2 separate regions of the Homo sapiens genome follow, and region 2 is linked to region 1. A link means that fine-mapping ties the variant in region 1 to the expression of a gene that starts in the linked region. Tissue or cell type: whole blood. Region 1 holds a variant in brackets; the other region holds the start of a gene. All regions are shown on one strand. Distances are from middle to middle.

The links. PIP is the estimated chance that this variant, and not a neighbour inherited with it, causes the effect.
Region 2: it holds the start of LTAP1, and the variant in region 1 is fine-mapped to the expression of LTAP1 in whole blood (TOPMed, PIP above 0.99).

What each region holds. Positions count from the first base shown.
Region 1 is chr1:154,263,494-154,271,595 of GRCh38, forward strand. UBAP2L (ubiquitin associated protein 2 like) reads left to right here. Exons shown (of 27, transcript NM_014847.4): 25 at 3,008-3,075; 26 at 5,264-5,461; 27 at 6,707-7,354. The coding sequence ends at 6,802. Among named protein-coding and RNA genes, the nearest start is that of HAX1, 5.1 kb to the right of the region's middle. The variant G/C (reference allele first, on the strand shown) is at 3,287.
Region 2 is chr1:154,215,803-154,223,904 of GRCh38, forward strand. LTAP1 (lipid transport auxiliary protein 1) reads right to left here and starts at 4,788. Exons shown (of 7, transcript NM_001098616.3): 1 at 4,540-4,788; 2 at 4,034-4,135. The coding sequence starts at 4,605. UBAP2L (ubiquitin associated protein 2 like) reads left to right here and starts at 5,153. Exons shown (of 27, transcript NM_014847.4): 1 at 5,153-5,173. RefSeq lists enhancers at 4,161-4,908, 4,487-4,926, 4,909-5,656 and silencers at 4,247-4,316, 5,177-5,326.

The sequences.
Region 1 (8,102 bases):
TCTTTAGCTAACTCTGGCGTTCTTTCCGTGCATGTCTTTGTGGACACTAGGAACCAATGCTGTGCTGTGGATGAAGGGTGGAGGGTGGCCTTTTTAATCAAACCCCAGCATAGCCAAAGAACTATTAATTTTTCAGTATGGTGGTTTTATGAAGGTGGGGGGAGGGGAAACAGCCTCAGTTTCCCACCTGTTGATTAGTTGGTAAAGGAAACTATTTGTAGAAATACCTGATTCTCCATGCTTATGTTGCTTCATTTTTCCATTTAGATCTTTCCTTTGCCTCTTACATAAGCAGTGGGGGAAAGGACAAAAAAGTTTGGAGTGTCATGTCATGGTGAAAGGCAAAAGAGAGAGTTTTCAGAGCTGTTAGAGAAGTATCTTTCAAGGCTTAATTCCCACATCTATCTGGTTCCTAAAGGCCAAGTGGCTAAGATCTGATAAAGTCATTAGTGATAAGCTAGTTGATGACTCAGGCTCTGTGGCGACTGTGCTATCCTGGAACATTGTTCTTAGTCCCTTGATGGCTTTTCAGAGATCGTGGATTACCAGTTTTGCATTTGTGGGTATAAGCTAAGGATGTGCAGGAGCGGTTTGGTCAGATATCTCCTTGACTATGGAAATTCTAATTCCCTCCCAGTCCAGCTAGCATACAACATTAGCCCTTTGTTTATAAAGTTAACGTGGACAGTGAGATCACCACCCTGGGTGAATTAGAAACCAAAGTATTCAGCTTTCCTTGTATTTGTTCCCAGCCCTTTGGAGTAATTTTGCTCTGTGGAGTGTGACCACCTTTCCCAGGGGCTGCCATGGTGGGAGAGATAGATTCATGTGTCTCTGCCCTGCTGCCCACGTGATTCTGGTATTGTCACTGTTTGGGGATAAGTAGGGGGTGTTGATGTTGGAAGGAAAGCAAGAGAACTCTGTAGTCTGAAGATCTTCCTAATAACTGGTGAGGGGTAGTGAAATCAGTACCCATTATTTTCTAGGTCTCTAATACTGTAATTGAGATTATTATGGCTACTACAGAGTATTATGGTTCCTGCATTCTCAGTCCCTTCAACCTCATATCAAAGATAAGGCCTCTGGACTAGAAGCTGTTTTTAGCCTAAACTCTGGAAAGAATGAGATCAGGTAGGGGCACACTGGAGCTGAATTCCTCCCTACCACTCGGCTTGAGAATCCAGTTAGTCATTTCTTCCATCCAATATAGGCAGCCTAGCCTCACTGCAGAAGGTGACCAACTATGCTATTTTTTATTTTTTTATTTTTTTTTTGCCTTTGCAGTAAAGATAAATTCTCTCTTTTGGTTTGACTTAAAAATGTTCTACTTATATCCTGTTTATTCCACCTTTACTCTCCACCCTTCCACATGAACTTACTAGCTTAAGCCTTTTCCATAACTGAACTTCCTATTCTTAAAAGTTATGCCTGTTACTCAGTGATTTGCCAGATGGGCACCTCGGGTTTGAAAAGGGAATGGAAAAAATACCCCATTAGCCCTTTAAGATACTCCTGTATCGTTCCCTTCTTTTACTTCAGTGTCTTTAGACAGTTGATGCTTCGGAGATGAGGAAGTATTTTCTCTTGCTTGGTTTTCTGTAGTTCCGTTATTTTTCCTAGTTAGTGTTTGCCCCTCCCAGGAACTATCTGGACTTAGGATGTTGGGAAGGTTTTCCAGATTAAGATACCACTTCAAAAGTGACTGTTCAAGGTGGGCTTAACTTTGGAAGGCTGCCTTTGTCTGAGGCATTGGGAGGATTTAGGTTCTAGAGTTTGAATTGTGGGTGAATGGAGGATTCCTTATTTGTGATTTGGCCACTCTAGTACACTGCTTCTAAAACTCTTTTCCATCAGTGTTCCTGATAGCAGAGGAGAAGGAAATGTGTACCTCTGATGGGAAGGATCCAAGGGCATAGACAGGCAAAGTTTTTCTGAAGCTTTGTTTTATTTTTATAAAAACTAATATATCTTTTTAAAATCATGCTTTATATTCCTAGTTAAATTACTTACTTTTCTTCACATCTTTGTTTCAAAATGGAAAGTATAAAAGATGTTAGGTTATTTATTTCATGGCTTTTCCTATCTTCTTGACCCGATGCCTTATACCCCAGGTGATGGAATATAGTATGAGTATTTATTTGTTTGAGGAGTACAAATTAGAATGACATGTTGTACTACTCTGGTTTCTTTAAAGTTGTAGTGGTTAGTAGGGAGTTTTTTTCAACAGGAAATATGAGAGTTGGGGTATGAGAGCTTTTATCTTACGGAGAAGCTGAAGTTGTATACTGAAAATGACGTGGTTTTTGTGTTCCACCTAGGCTATAGGAGATGGCCTACTCCTGTCTACCTATCCCTCCCCACCCCGCTACACTTAGGCTTAAATTGTGTACATGGAAATTGATCTTGATACTAGACCTTTACATCTTAAGTTTGAAGATTTAGCCTAGATGCTCCAAGACTAAAGAAGCTGGACTAATTGAGCTGAGGCTCTGAGAATGAGAGTGCCCTTGGGGATTAAAGTGGACTGCTCCTCTAGTACTTATGCAGTGGAGGCATGGATTTTGAGCCCAGAAATGTCACTTCAGGAAGAGAGAGGGCCAGACTGCCCCAGTCTCCAGGAATAAAACTGAGTGGCATTTGGGTGGATTGATTTGAAATGGACATTAAAATTAAAAGTTTATTATATTCCTGCTAGACTTTGGCACAGAAGTGTTTTGAAAACAGTGTATGCTAGTGAGGTTTGGTCATATCCCCTTGCCCACCAAAAAACAACTTACCTCACTCTCTCTCACGTATACTCAACACGTACCTGGGAAGGGCCAAAGAACCCTTAGGGAGCTTTTGTTTCATGAACTCTTACCTCTCAGGACTAACTTGAAGCTGGAAAACCGACCAAAATTCCCTTGCATTGGTATAGCTAGAAAGGCTACAGATATCACCTCATCTCAGGAATAAGGGCCAGGTAGCTAGCTGAGCTAATCCTCCTGTCTGTTTCCTCCTCCCCCAGGTGTTTCAGTCACCTCCAGTAACACGGGCGTGCCAGATATCTCGGGTTCTGTGTACTCCAAAACCCAGGTAGGTGCCTGGCTCTGGATAAAAGTGGAAAAGAGATAGACATAGAGGAGGTGGAGTTGCAATGGTAGAAATAACAGTGGACAAGAAGAACCCTAGGAGAGGTGGCAGGAAACCCATCCTACTTTTTCTAAATGAAAGGTCTTCTCTAGACTTCACTTCCTCTAAGAAGTTAAAATTTAGCCCTCTGAGAAAAAAAACGAGAAACGTAATA[G/C]GAAGGTAAAGCGTGGCAAATTGTTTATCGTGTCATGTAATTTACTGTGCAACTCTCCTGGCCCCTTTTCCTACCTACTCCCAACCTTTTTCATAACTTTTCAAGAGAATAAGTATGAGAGTGACAGGAAACTAGTTCATTCCATTCTTTGAGTAAATCTATAACAGTGGGAGTGGGAAAGGAGACGACCTAGTAACTAATGAAGCATTTGAGTGATCCACAGGTTTGTTATGTTGCTTTTATCCCCCATCACCATAAATACTTAAAGTTTGCTATAAAGCACTGGGGGTCTGGGGGGGCACTTCATGCACAAGACCTTCAGCACTTCAAATATCTCAGTATGTGTTTATTTCTTTTGAAATATCCAACGAGTTTTTTTTTTTTTTTTTTTTTTGAGATGGAGTCTTGCCTTGTCACCCAGGCTAGAGTGCAGTGGTGTGATCTCGGCTCACTGCAAACTCTGCCTCCTGGGTTTAAGCGGTTCTCCTGCCTCAGCCTCCTGAGTAGCTGGGATTACAGGTGCCCACCACCGCGCCTGCTAATTTTTGTATTTTTTAGTAGAGACGGGGTTTCACCATCTTGGCTAGGCTGGTCTCGAACTCCTGACATCATGATCTGCCCACCTTGGCCTCCCAAAGTGCTAGATTACAGGCGTGAGCCACTGCACCCAGCGGAGTTACTATTTTTGTAAGGAATATTGGAAGGGGTAGGGACACTATTGGTTTGCCTTTTTTTTTTTTTTTGGAGACAGTCTCAAGAAGTCACCCAGGCTGGAGTGCAGTGGTGGAATCTCAGCCTTCTGAGTAGCTGGGGCTATAGGTGTACACCACCAGGCCTGCCTAATTTTTGTATTTTTGTTTTTTGTTTGTTTTGTATTTTGTATTTTTGTTTTTTGGTAGATACAGGGTTTTGCCATGTTGCCCAGGCTCGTCTCGAACTCCTGGGCTCAAGCAATCCACCCGCCTTAGCCTCCCAAAAGTGCTGGGATTACAGATGTGAGCCATCATGCCCAGCCTGGAGTTCTAAGTTCGGATTTCATGATGTTCACATATGACATTCAGTTTTACAAAGTGCTTCCACATTCCATCCTCTTATTTGGTCTTTTTTTTTTTTTTTTTTTTTTTTTTGAGACGGAGTTTCATTCTTGTTGCCCAGGCTGGAGTGTAATGGTGCGATCTGGGCTCACCATAACCTCCGCCTCTCGGGTTCAAGCGATTCTCCTGCCTCAGCCTCCCAAGTAGCTGGGATTACAGGCATGTGCCACCATGCCCGGGTAATTTTGTGTTTTTAGTAGAGACGGGGTTTCTTCATGTTTGTCAGGCTGGTCTCAAACTCCTGACCTCAGGTGATCCGCCTGCATTGGCCTCCCAAAATGCTGGGATTACAGGCATGGGCCACTGCGCCCAGCCTTTTTTTTTCTTTTTTTTCTTGAGATGGAGTCTCCCTCTGTCTCCCAGGCTGGAGTGCAGTGGCACAGTCTTGACTCACTGCAACCTCCACCTCCCAGGTTCAAGTGATTCTCCTGCCTCAGACTCCCAAGTAGCTGGATTACAGGCGCCCGCCACCATGCCCGGCTAATTTTTGTATTTTTAGTAGAGACGGGGTTTCACCATATTGGCCAGACTGGTCTTAAACTCCTGACCTTGTGTGATCCACCCATCTTGGCCTCCCAAAGTGCTGGGATTACAGATGTGAGCCACCATGCCCAGCCTATTTGGTCTTTACAACAGGTTTGTAGCATCCCTGTTTTATATCTGAGGAAACTGAGGCTAAGAGATTGAGTAGTATGCCCAGGTTCACACAGTTCTTAAATAAGAGCAGAGCTGAGACTGAGACCTGAATATGTGACTTCAAGTGTACTGTGCCTTCTGTGACACCATGCTGCTTTCTGAGGGTCAGGGAGCTTGAGCTCAGGAAAAATCCCAAGACTAGTTTGCTGATCCCTTTTACTCTGTCTCCTCCTGGCCTCCTGGATAGCAGTCCTTTGAGAAACAAGGTTTTCATTCCGGTACTCCTGCTGCTTCCTTCAACTTGCCTTCAGCCCTAGGAAGTGGGGGCCCCATCAATCCGGCCACAGCTGCTGCCTACCCACCTGCCCCCTTTATGCACATTCTGACCCCCCATCAGCAGCCGCATTCTCAGATCCTTCACCATCACCTGCAGCAGGATGGCCAGGTAATAGCCCTTCCCCTTCTCTCCTTTCCCTTCCTCTTCCTTCCTATCCCTTAAAACTGCCTTCCCTTTCCTTTTCTTACCCTTCCTCACCACCACCTTCACCCAATCCCTCCCCAGCGCCAGTCATGGGCACACAGCACATACAGACACAAGCGCACATAACACGAGCGGCCGGCAAAGGAAATCTCAGAGAAGGGCCGGGTTGAAACCTTTTTTGCCCAATTCCTTTGGTGCCCTTCTCCTCCTGTGCCACAGTTGTCCTCATCCCATCAGACCTGGGTCACACCTTCCCTCTTTCCTCTCCCAGCCTTCCCTCTTCCCTGACATTTTAGCTTTCCCTTCTAATGGTGGAGTTCTATTGTCAAAGTTTGTCCCTTTATTTTCCATATATCCTGGTTCTGCCTCAGCTACCATATTTGCAGATGATTCTCTGTTGCCAGCGCCAGCAGGAGGAGCAGGTAATGAAATTGAATGATCATATGCTTGAACCCACTCCTTTTCAGTCCCCATTTCACCTTCACAGCCTCAGGGAACTTGAAAAGACTGCGCGGTCACAAATCGGGATACACAAACACAAACACCTTGCTGAGCTCTCTGGCCTCCCCTTCCTCTCTCCTCCTCCCCTCCCCAACACCCTCTTTATCTTTGTACCCTTCCCCAGCTGTGGAAAACATTCGGTTACCAGAATGGAAAAGATTCTTGGGGCAGCATCTGGAGCCTGAGGCCTCAGACTGCCTCTCATACCTGCCTGAAATGGGCTCACAGATGTGATGTGTGGTAGGGGTGGGGATCTGTGGGGCGATGCAAGTGGCCTCTTGAGAGCTCCATTATAGGTGGCTGGAGCTAGAATAAGGGCTTCCTTCCTCAAAGACAGCTTTCCAAATTGAGGCATTAATGGGGATCAATGGAAATGAAATTGCCTTGTGATCACCCATCTCCAAGAGCAGGGGAGAGAGGGGGTAGTGTGAGAATGTAGAATTGAAAATGAGTAGAACTCACTCACTACCTTGTCTCTAAAGGTATCTTGCCCTCTTCATCTTTTCCCTATTTAAAAGTCAAAAATGCCTTCCTGCTTGTAAGAAAGGGGCTTTAGCAGCTATGCAGACCAAATTTTCTATGGTTCTAATAGTAGTGAGGGGAATGGGAGAGCAAGACAGTTTGCACATCTCCACCTGAAGATGTTACAAATTTGTACCACTAACTAGACACCTTTTTCCTCCTCATGATCCTCCCATTCCCCTGCAGACGGGCAGCGGGCAACGTAGCCAGACCAGCTCCATCCCGCAGAAGCCCCAGACCAACAAGTCTGCCTACAACAGCTACAGCTGGGGGGCCAACTGAGGCCCTGACCCTCTTCTCCCGGTCCCATCTTCTGAGAGGGCTTCTCAGCCTGGAAACTATGGAAACAGCATCAAAGAGAAAGGAATGTGGGGGGTTTCCGCTGCCCCCCACCCCCAGCGGCCCACCCCATGCCTCAGCTTCATGTCTGTCCCATTCCTATACCATCCCCACCCTGTTGTATGTATTATAGGATTTGTATTTTCTCCTTTTTTTTCCCCCTTCCATTCCTTCTCCCCTCTTGCATTCAAGATTATGAAACTTTGCTATGGGCCCTGCACTTCCTTTGCTTCCTCCTGTTCACCCTGGTGGTGTACGGATGAGGCGGGGAGGTGGGACCCCCAAACATATATCAGCCCAACAGCCCTAAGTCTCCTTCTTTATTATTAGGAAAACAACAACAACAACAAACAAAAAAATGGCGTCATGAATATGAACAGCATTGTCAGATGAATTAGTTGAAGTGGTTTTTTTTTTGTTTTTTTTTTTTTTTTGTACTGTGTCCTCAAATTTAATGGATTAATGTGTCTTGTATATATAAAAAGAAAACCTCTACCTTCAGCCTCTGCCTATTCTTGCTCCGTCTAGGACATCCTCAATTTCGTCGATGACCAGCTTGGTGAATAAGTATTACTGTACCAACTGGGCCTCCTCTAGCAGGCCCCTGAAGGCAGTGGAATAAAATGAAATCTTCGCCCTTTAAGAACTCCTGACCTTAATGTGGTAGTAGTATCTTGTCCTTGAGGGGATTTCCTTCCCCTCACCCCTAAGACTTTCACAACCTGGTGACTGGAAAGAACCACCACAAATCTTCATTTCCTCCAGAAACTGCTACATCTACAGCCGATTTCAGGCAGTAAAGGGAGAGGGATAGAGGAGATTGGGTGGAAAATGGAGAGGATCAAGAAGGAGCTGAGACCATTTCAAAGAAAAAAAATGCTTTATAGAGTTTTAAGTATGACTTAGATGGGTCCAGGCAAATAAACTAAAAAGAAGTGAAGGCAACATGTATCGTCTGGCAGAACTAAATCTTGGAGTGGGGTGAGGGATGAAAGACTACATATTGGGTACAGTGTACACTGCTCGGGTGATGGGTGCGCTAAAGTCGCAGAAATCACTAAAGAACTCATCCATGTAACCAAACACCACCTGTACCCCAAAAACGAAATAAAAAAACAAAACCTTGGGGCCCATTCCCCCTAGGAATGGACTACTGTAGTAGTGGCTTCTTGGATGCTTCTCTGTGACATAGCTATACCCAATTCTTTGAAAAAGAATCTAGAGCAAGGTCTGGCTTGGGGAT
Region 2 (8,102 bases), 48 kb before region 1:
TATCCAGTTTATGCAATGGAACATTACCACTAACTTTCTTTTTTTTTTTTTTTGAGACGGAGTCTCGCTCTGTCGCCCAGGCTGGAGTGCAGTGGCGCAATCTCAGCTCACTGCAAGCTCCGCCTCCCGGGTTCACGCCATTCTCCTGCCTCAGCCTCCCGAGTAGCTGGGACTACAGGCGCCCGCCACCACGCCTGGCTAATTTTTTGTATTTTTAGTAGAGACGGGGTTTCACCTTGTTAGCCAGGTTGGTCTCGATCTGCTGACCTCATGATCCACCCGCCTCGGCCTCCCAAAGTGCTGGGATTACAGGCGTGAGCCACCGCGCCCGGCCCTACCACTAACTTTCAAGTCTTGTGTGCCCATCCCTCATTGAATGCTCCGCACCCCAAACCTTAACTTGTCAATAGTCCTCATACACTTCTTCACTGTTTTATCGTGTCACCCTAAAAAAGATGCTTAGCTTTGCCTGGTTTTCAACTTGATACAAATGGAAAAATACTTTAAGAATCCCTCTGCAACTTGTTTAAAAAAAAAATTTTTTTTTTTTGAGACAGGGTCACACTCTGTCACCCAGGCTGGAGTGCAATGGCACAATCTCAGCTCACTATAACCTCCACCTCCTGAGCTCAGATGATCCTCCTGCCTTAGCCTCCTGAGTAGCTGGGGTTACAGGCACACACCACCATGCATGGCTAATTATTAAACATTTTTTTTTTTTGAGATGGAGTCTTGCTCTGTCACCCAGACTGGAGTACAGTGGCATGATCTTGGCTCATTGCAACCTCTGCCTGCTGGGTTCAAGCAATTCTCCTTGCCCTCCTGCCTCAGCCTCCCAAGTAGCTGGGACTACAGGCGCATGCCACCATGCCCAGCTAATTTTTTGTATTTTTCGTAGAGATGGGGTCTCACCATGCTCGCCAGGCTGGTCTCAAACTCCTGACCTTGTGATCTTCTCATGTGGGCCTCCCAAAGTGCTGGGATTACAGGCGTGAACCACCGCGCCTGGCCCATTTTTAAACTTTTTATAGAGACAGGGTTTCCCCATATTGCCTACGCTGGTCTCGAACTCCTGAGCTGACGTGATCAGCCTGCCTCGGCCTCCCAAAGTGCTAGGATTACAGGTGTAAACCACCTCGCCTGGCCTTAAATTTTTTTTTTTTTTGATACAGAGACTCACTCTGTCACCCAGGCTGGAGTGCAATGGTGTGATCTCTGCTCACTGCAACCTCCGCCGGGGCTCAAGTGATTCTCCTGCCTCAGCCTCCTGAGTAGCTGGGATTACAGGCACACACCGCCACGCCCAGCTAATTTTTTTGCATTTTTAGTACAGTCGGGGTTTCACCGTGTTGGCCAGGCTGGTCTTGAACTCCTGACCTCAGGTGATCCACCTGCCTCAGCCTCCCAAAGTGCTGGGATTACAGGCGTTAGCCACCGCACCCAGCAAAATTTTTCAAATATACTTTATTGAGGTTGAATTTACATACAATAAATGCATTCATTTTATGTATATAAATTGATGAGTTTGACAAATGAACATACCCCCTTCACCACCACGTCAATCAAAGTAAAGAATATTTTCATCACCTGGAAATCTCCCCTCTCCCAGCCCAGGCAACATGATGTACTCTTTTACAGTTCTGCCTGTTCTAGAATTTCATATAAATGGGGTGGAAGCACATGGTACATATTCTCTTGTGAACGGCATTTTGGCTTTCTTCACTCAGCATGGTTTTTTTGTTTTTGGTGAGACAGAGTCTCGCTCTGTCACCCAGGCTGGAGTGCAGTGGTTTGATCTCAGCTTACTACAACCTCTGCCACCTGGGTTCAAGGGATTCTCCTACCTCAGCGTCCCGAGTAGTTAGGATTTTTTTCTTGTATTTTTAGTAGAGATTGGGTTTCACCATGTTGGCTGGTCTGGTCTCGAACTCCTGACCTCAAGTGTTATCTGCCCAACTCGGCCTCCCTAAGTGCTGGGATTACCGGCATGAGCTACCATGCCCGGCCCACTCAGCATGTTTTTGAGATTCATGTTTGCAATTTTTTTCATTCAGAAGTATTTTGAGGACTTGTCTTCATATATTTATCTTCAGTTTTTCATTTTTTACACTATTCCAGAATATGAATATACCACTACCTATTTTTTAGAAACAAGGTCTTGCTCTTGCCCATGCTGGAGTGCATCAGTGCAATCATAGCTCACTGCAGTCTGTAACTCCTGGGCTCACATGATCTTCTGGCCTCAGCCTCCCAAAGTGCTAGGACTACAGGTATGAGCCACTGCACTCAGCCTATATAATAATTGAAAAGTGGACATTTGAATTAAGTTTCTTCTTCAAATATTATGAACAATGCCCCTATAAATAATCTTGCACATGTTTCTTGGTACACATGAGCAAAACTTAATTTCTCTATGGTAGGAGAGAAACTGTTGGACCATGGATTAGGTACATGTGCAATCTTACCAGACAATGACCAGTTATTTTCCAAAGTGGTTTTACTAATTTATACTTTCACTAGCAATGGTTGAGAATTTAGAAAAAATTTTTAAGCAAAAGGAATATTGCTCTGAACTAGACCAAGGGACCCCTGAATAGCCAAAGTATTGATTGGTTCATGATGTGCTAGAAACTAACCCTATGTCTTTCTCATGAGGCAGGCAGGACTGTTAAGGTTTCAAGCCAGGACATCCTCCTAGAGCCTTTTCATGTACTATGTCAGCAAAGAACAAAGAGGGGAAGGTTAATAGCACTTGTTAATGAAAGTACAGTGCTCTAGGAGTTGAGGGAGTCATGAGCTCTAGCTCTACAACTAACCTGTTTTTCATTCAGCAACAAATTACAGAGTACCTGCTATGTGTAGGCCCTGGCACTAACCTGTTTTTCATTCAACAAGAAATTACTGAGTACCTACTATGTGTAGGTCCTGGCTTTATAGTCGTGAACAAAACTGGCATGGTGCCTGCATTCTTGAAGCTTACGGTCTAGCGGAAGAGAGAGGCATGTTTTAAACAAATGGACAAACATAAAAATTATGGTAAATGCTATGAAGGAAAAATCAGGGTACCATGTGAAAATAAAGAGAGGGGGAACCTACTTTAAAATAGGTAATAAGCATTCCTTTTTTGGAAGTAACATTTAAGCTAAGATCAAAAGAATGAATGAGCTAGCCAATTGAAGACCATTCCAGATCACAGGAGCAAAAAGGGTGGAAAATTCAGCCAGTGGAGCTGGGTCCCAGTGATCTGGGGAGAGCCACACAAAAGGGGGTTGGTAAGGGAAGCAGGTGTCTTTTACTTAGAAGCGAAAGACTAAAGAAGCAGAATGAGAGTGGCAGTGGGATAGCAATAATTCTGATTCACAAATGTTGGGTTTGAGATGTCTACTACAAATCTAAGTGGAAATGTCAGGTAATCAGTTGGCAATATATGTAAGGAACTCAGGAAAGAGTTCTAGGATAGAGATAAAATTTCATCTGTAGCTAAAGCCAAGGAAAGGAAGACAGTCACCTAAGGAGAAAGTACAGACAAAGATAAAAGACCACTGGGTTATTCACTTCCTATACGTCTTCTGGTAAACTGCCTCCTTTTCTTGGGCTTCTTGGTAACATGAATGGTGGAATTAGATGATTTATGGAGCTCCTCTTAAGTCTAAAATTATGTAAAGGTAACCCTTCTCATTGCTCTTGGGTTAACCTTAATGATCTCAACCCCATCCTAATCAAACAAAAAACACTGGGTAGTTTAAGATGAGCTGGGAAATATTTTACTACAAACAGTTGGGAACTTCGACCCAAGCCCTTCATTCTGCAGATACAAAAACAGAAGTTCCAGGATGAGCCACATGCTTGCCACAGCACTGAGCAGGTAAGCCAAGTTCCAAAGCGCACAGTGCCTGCTCAACTTAGTAAGTACAAGGACAAGTGCACGCAAAGAAACATGAGAATTAAAGTCATCACTAAAGGCAGAGGAAATCTCATTCTTGACCCTAAAAGATCTGGAGAAGTATGTTTAACTTGTGCCCTAAGGACCTACCTTGGGGGCATTGTGTCCCACAGGGACATGAGGTCCCCTTCGAGATTTCATTGCAAAGCGCATGATTTGCCTCTTCACAAAAATAAATAGCAGTACAAACACCTGTCCAAAAAGATGTAAAAATCCTTTAATAAAAAGTCAGTTTTGTTTTGTTTTTTTTTTAAAAAAGCATGCCTTCATTCCAAATCCCCAGATTCCGGCTCTCAGGAATGTTTCAGGGTAAAACTTGGGGCAAAGCAAGGCCGTTATGATGGGGGTGGATCTAAGAAGCCAGCAGCAGGGAGGCGTGGGGTCTGTGCTCTAGCGTTAAAGGGAGGGTTCTAGACTAACGAGGGCGGGTCGGCCCGACTAAGTGACTTAAACTCCCACCTACTCCTGGAATAAGGAGTCAAAGCCCGGATAGGCGCAGGTGAGTGGGTGGAGAATGCAGACGGGGTACAGCTCAAAAGGAGGGTCTCTACTGGGTAAGATGCGACAGCAGGAATGGGGTGGGGTAATCTCCTCACCAGGCTCCCGTAGGCCATCACCAGCACGACATTCACCCCGGAGAGCCAGTTACTGCCGGACGCCATGGCCTCCCTACCTCGCGCAGAATTGTTCGGGTTTACCCCGCTGTCCTGGCTGGTCAGCCCAGGCTCCGCCGAAGCGACGGCGCCTGGGTCCCCTGGAGCTCCCCGGCCATTTCCTTACGGGGGAAGACCAAGCCAGACCCGGCCTGAAAACATGGCGGACAGGCAGGAGAGCTGGGAAAGGAGAACGACGCCTTCCAGCTTCCCCCTGACACGTGACTCAGGCAGGCAATGGCACCCAGGAGCGTCGAGCGCTCAGACGCGGAACTACGACAGTAAGAGGAAGCGGCGGCCATCCGTGCGTCACGTGGTGGAGGCAGGGCCGCCGTGAAGGAGGCGGGGTGGACTCGCGGAGCCGGAAAGAGGTGTCTCGTGGCGAGGCGGCACGCGCACGCTTGCGTGCGCGCCCCTTTTAGCGTCACGCGCTGAGGGACGCAGGAAGGCAAGTGGGCGGGGGAAGGCGCGAGAGCGAGCGCGAGAGGGAAAAGGAGGGAGGGGGTGGGGAAGAGGGAATCTTATATCACGTGACAGGGGCGGCGCGGCCCGGGGTGTCAGTGTGGAGGAGACTGAGGTAAAGTTGGGAGCGCAGCGGCGTTGGCGGCGGCGGCGGCGGCAGCGGCAGCGCGGCGGGGCCGGGTATTGTCCGCGGCCCCTTTAAATCCGCGATCCCCCTTTTACCCTCCCTCTTTTCTCCCCTGCCCCCGCCGTATCCCCTCCCTCGGTAGGCCCCCCCACACCGTGTGTTCCCCCACTGTACACCCCCCCCCGAGTCATGCGAGCCCTGGCGCCCCCCACCTCGAGTCGGCCCCCGGAGGTTTTGTTTATGGTTGGGTTCGCGGCCTAGTGGGCCGCGCCAGAGCCGGGGCCTCGATTTGGGAGCGTGGCCGGGGCGGGGCTTGGAGCAGCCGTAGGAAGGGGGGGCCATGCGGCTAGAGCCTGAGAGGGGAGAGCGAGAAAGAGCGCGAGCGAGCGAGGCCTGGGCCTTGCCTGAGGTAGGGCTCTCTCTTCACCCCGGCCGGTGCCTGCGGAGGAGAGGGCCTCCTCCCTTTCCACCCACTGCGGGCCTCCTCTGATCCGGATCCGGCCTGGTTTGGGGGTGGCGTGGGGGAGGGAGGGCGATGGGGTGGAGCTCCCCCAAACTCCCCCATGTGGCCCTCAGTTTGGTGTGCGAAGGATTAATTTGTTCCGGCTGGGAGGTAGGGAGGAGATTGGCCCCGTGGGCTCTCGATGTGGCGCTGAGGGGGGTGAGCCTCCCATCCTCCACCCGTGGGCTTGCGTCCCCTCTCCGTTTCCAGGCTCTTTGTCAGCTCCTCTTATTACCCTCCCTTCTTTCTCACCAACCCAGTTCTTGGAATATGTTTTTGCTGCTGTCTTTAGCTTCCTGTTTATACTGTAGTTTGGGTACCCCAAACAATTGTGTTATTTGGGAAGCTGGACATGGAGGCCCCCATAGGGTGTATTTACGCTTAAGGGACGTCACTAGAGCACTGGGGTATTTGTTCACTCTTCTCATAATGGTACAGGAATGCCCAGTTTCTTCAAACCCTTAACCTTGTGGACAGCCCTTAAATTGCTTTGCAAACTGATGTCACAAACTGGAGACTGCTCCTTTTCCACCATTCTTGAAATGTAGCCACCTCTGGTGTAGGATGTTGTGGAAAGAAAAACACCACAGTAACAGGCGTTTTTGTTATTATTGTTAACGTTTTTGCCTTTGACTCTCCCTGATTATTAAATGGAGAAATCCTTTTTTTTTGTCTTCTCTCCCATCCTACCTTCCTCCGCCGCATATCCTGTTTTGGGGATACCTGATGTGACTTGCTGGGAGGTGATGGACATTACTAGTAACCAGCGTTTCTAGAGAATTAAAACATTTTGGCTGTGTATCAGTTGATAAAACTGCTTTGAGATCTGTCTCCATTGTACTTAAAGATTAGACTATCCCAATGATTACAGAGAATTAAAACATTTTGGCTGTGTATCAGTTGATAAAACTGCTTTGAGATCTGACACCATTGTCCTTAAAGATTAGACTATCTCAATGATTGTTTCCTTTGTGAATGGGAAATATTGCTGGCACATAAACTAGTGATGAAAGGCCTAAAAATGTCCTGTTTTGTTTTTCATCTTTAAAGCTCCTCCTTGCTATGTCCTAACTGGGAAGTACTCTTACTAACTAGATATCAAGGTGGTGGGGAAGGGGATGCAGGGGCCATTTCAACAAAGCATCTACAGAAATTAGTTGTTCTGTTAGAGGTAGCAAATTTTACCCAACTCAGTCTAGCTTCAGTTTCTGAATTGTTTCTTAAATTAGATTGTAAGCTCCCTGAGGGCAGCTACTAAGTCATACTGCTTTTGTATTTTCCTGAAGTATTGGACACATAGTAGATTCTCAATAAATATTTGTTATTTAGTTTTTTCAGTGAAATTTCTCTGGCTATTTTTTTAAGTAGCTAGTTTTCAAAAAAGAGTCAAGGGCACTCCTGTGTTGAAACCTCTGTTTACTCTCGCACGATTTCCTTGGTCTCCAATACTTCTCACCCTACTTCCTTTAAATCTTTTTATTTTCTAAGAAAGAGCAAGTAAGTAACAAGATTCTTCATCTCCAGTGTGATAGCTGGGAATGGGTCTGCTTGCTACTAATTCTGTGCCCTCAAGTGATCCATTCCAGATCACTTACTTTTGACCTGTTGCTCAGTGTTGTCACTACTAGGTGGTAAAAATTTTCTTAGTCACATTTCGAAGCACTTGTAAGAGGGAAATGTTACTAGCAAGAGTGATTAGGAGAATTTTTTTCTTTCTTGGTTAATTATATCTTTCAAGATGACTTTTTAATATGTTTACATCTGACTGGTACAGTATATGCAATAGTGTATAGCTAGTCATGCAGTTTATACCTGCAATATAACTTATCCTCACAAATAGATATCACATGTGGAGTAGAAAACAGTCAATATTTGTAAGTTACAGTAGTGGGTTGGAAATGACTATGCCATATTAGAAACTTCATCTTAGAGCCAATTTTAAAACAAAATAGTTTTCCTCTCGTCTTTATATATATACGTATATATGTGTATATGTAGTCTTGTTGATTTGGATTCGGGGTACTTGGTTAAACATTTTTTTTTTTTGTAAAGTTGAAACGACTATAATGCTAACCTGGGAAAATGGGCTACTGTGTAGCAAATAATCCTTTCTAGCTTGAAATACTTATGGGCTTTTGTGTGCCAATATGTGTAGGGGGAAGAGGTAATGGGTTAAAAATTACCTGAGAAGCTACCTTAAAAAAATCTTTCTTGATACAAAGACCTATGCAACCTATTGACGCAACTTGGTGAAGAATTTATGCACAGAAAAAGTCAGCTTTCTCTGTGACATCCAAGAAAGTCAGATGAAATTCACTTCCCTAATAGTTAATCCTTGCATATTTCTTTAGAAGTCCTTCCTCCCACTCAAATCCAGTAATATCTCTGGGCAGTCTAGAATTACGTTGTATAAGG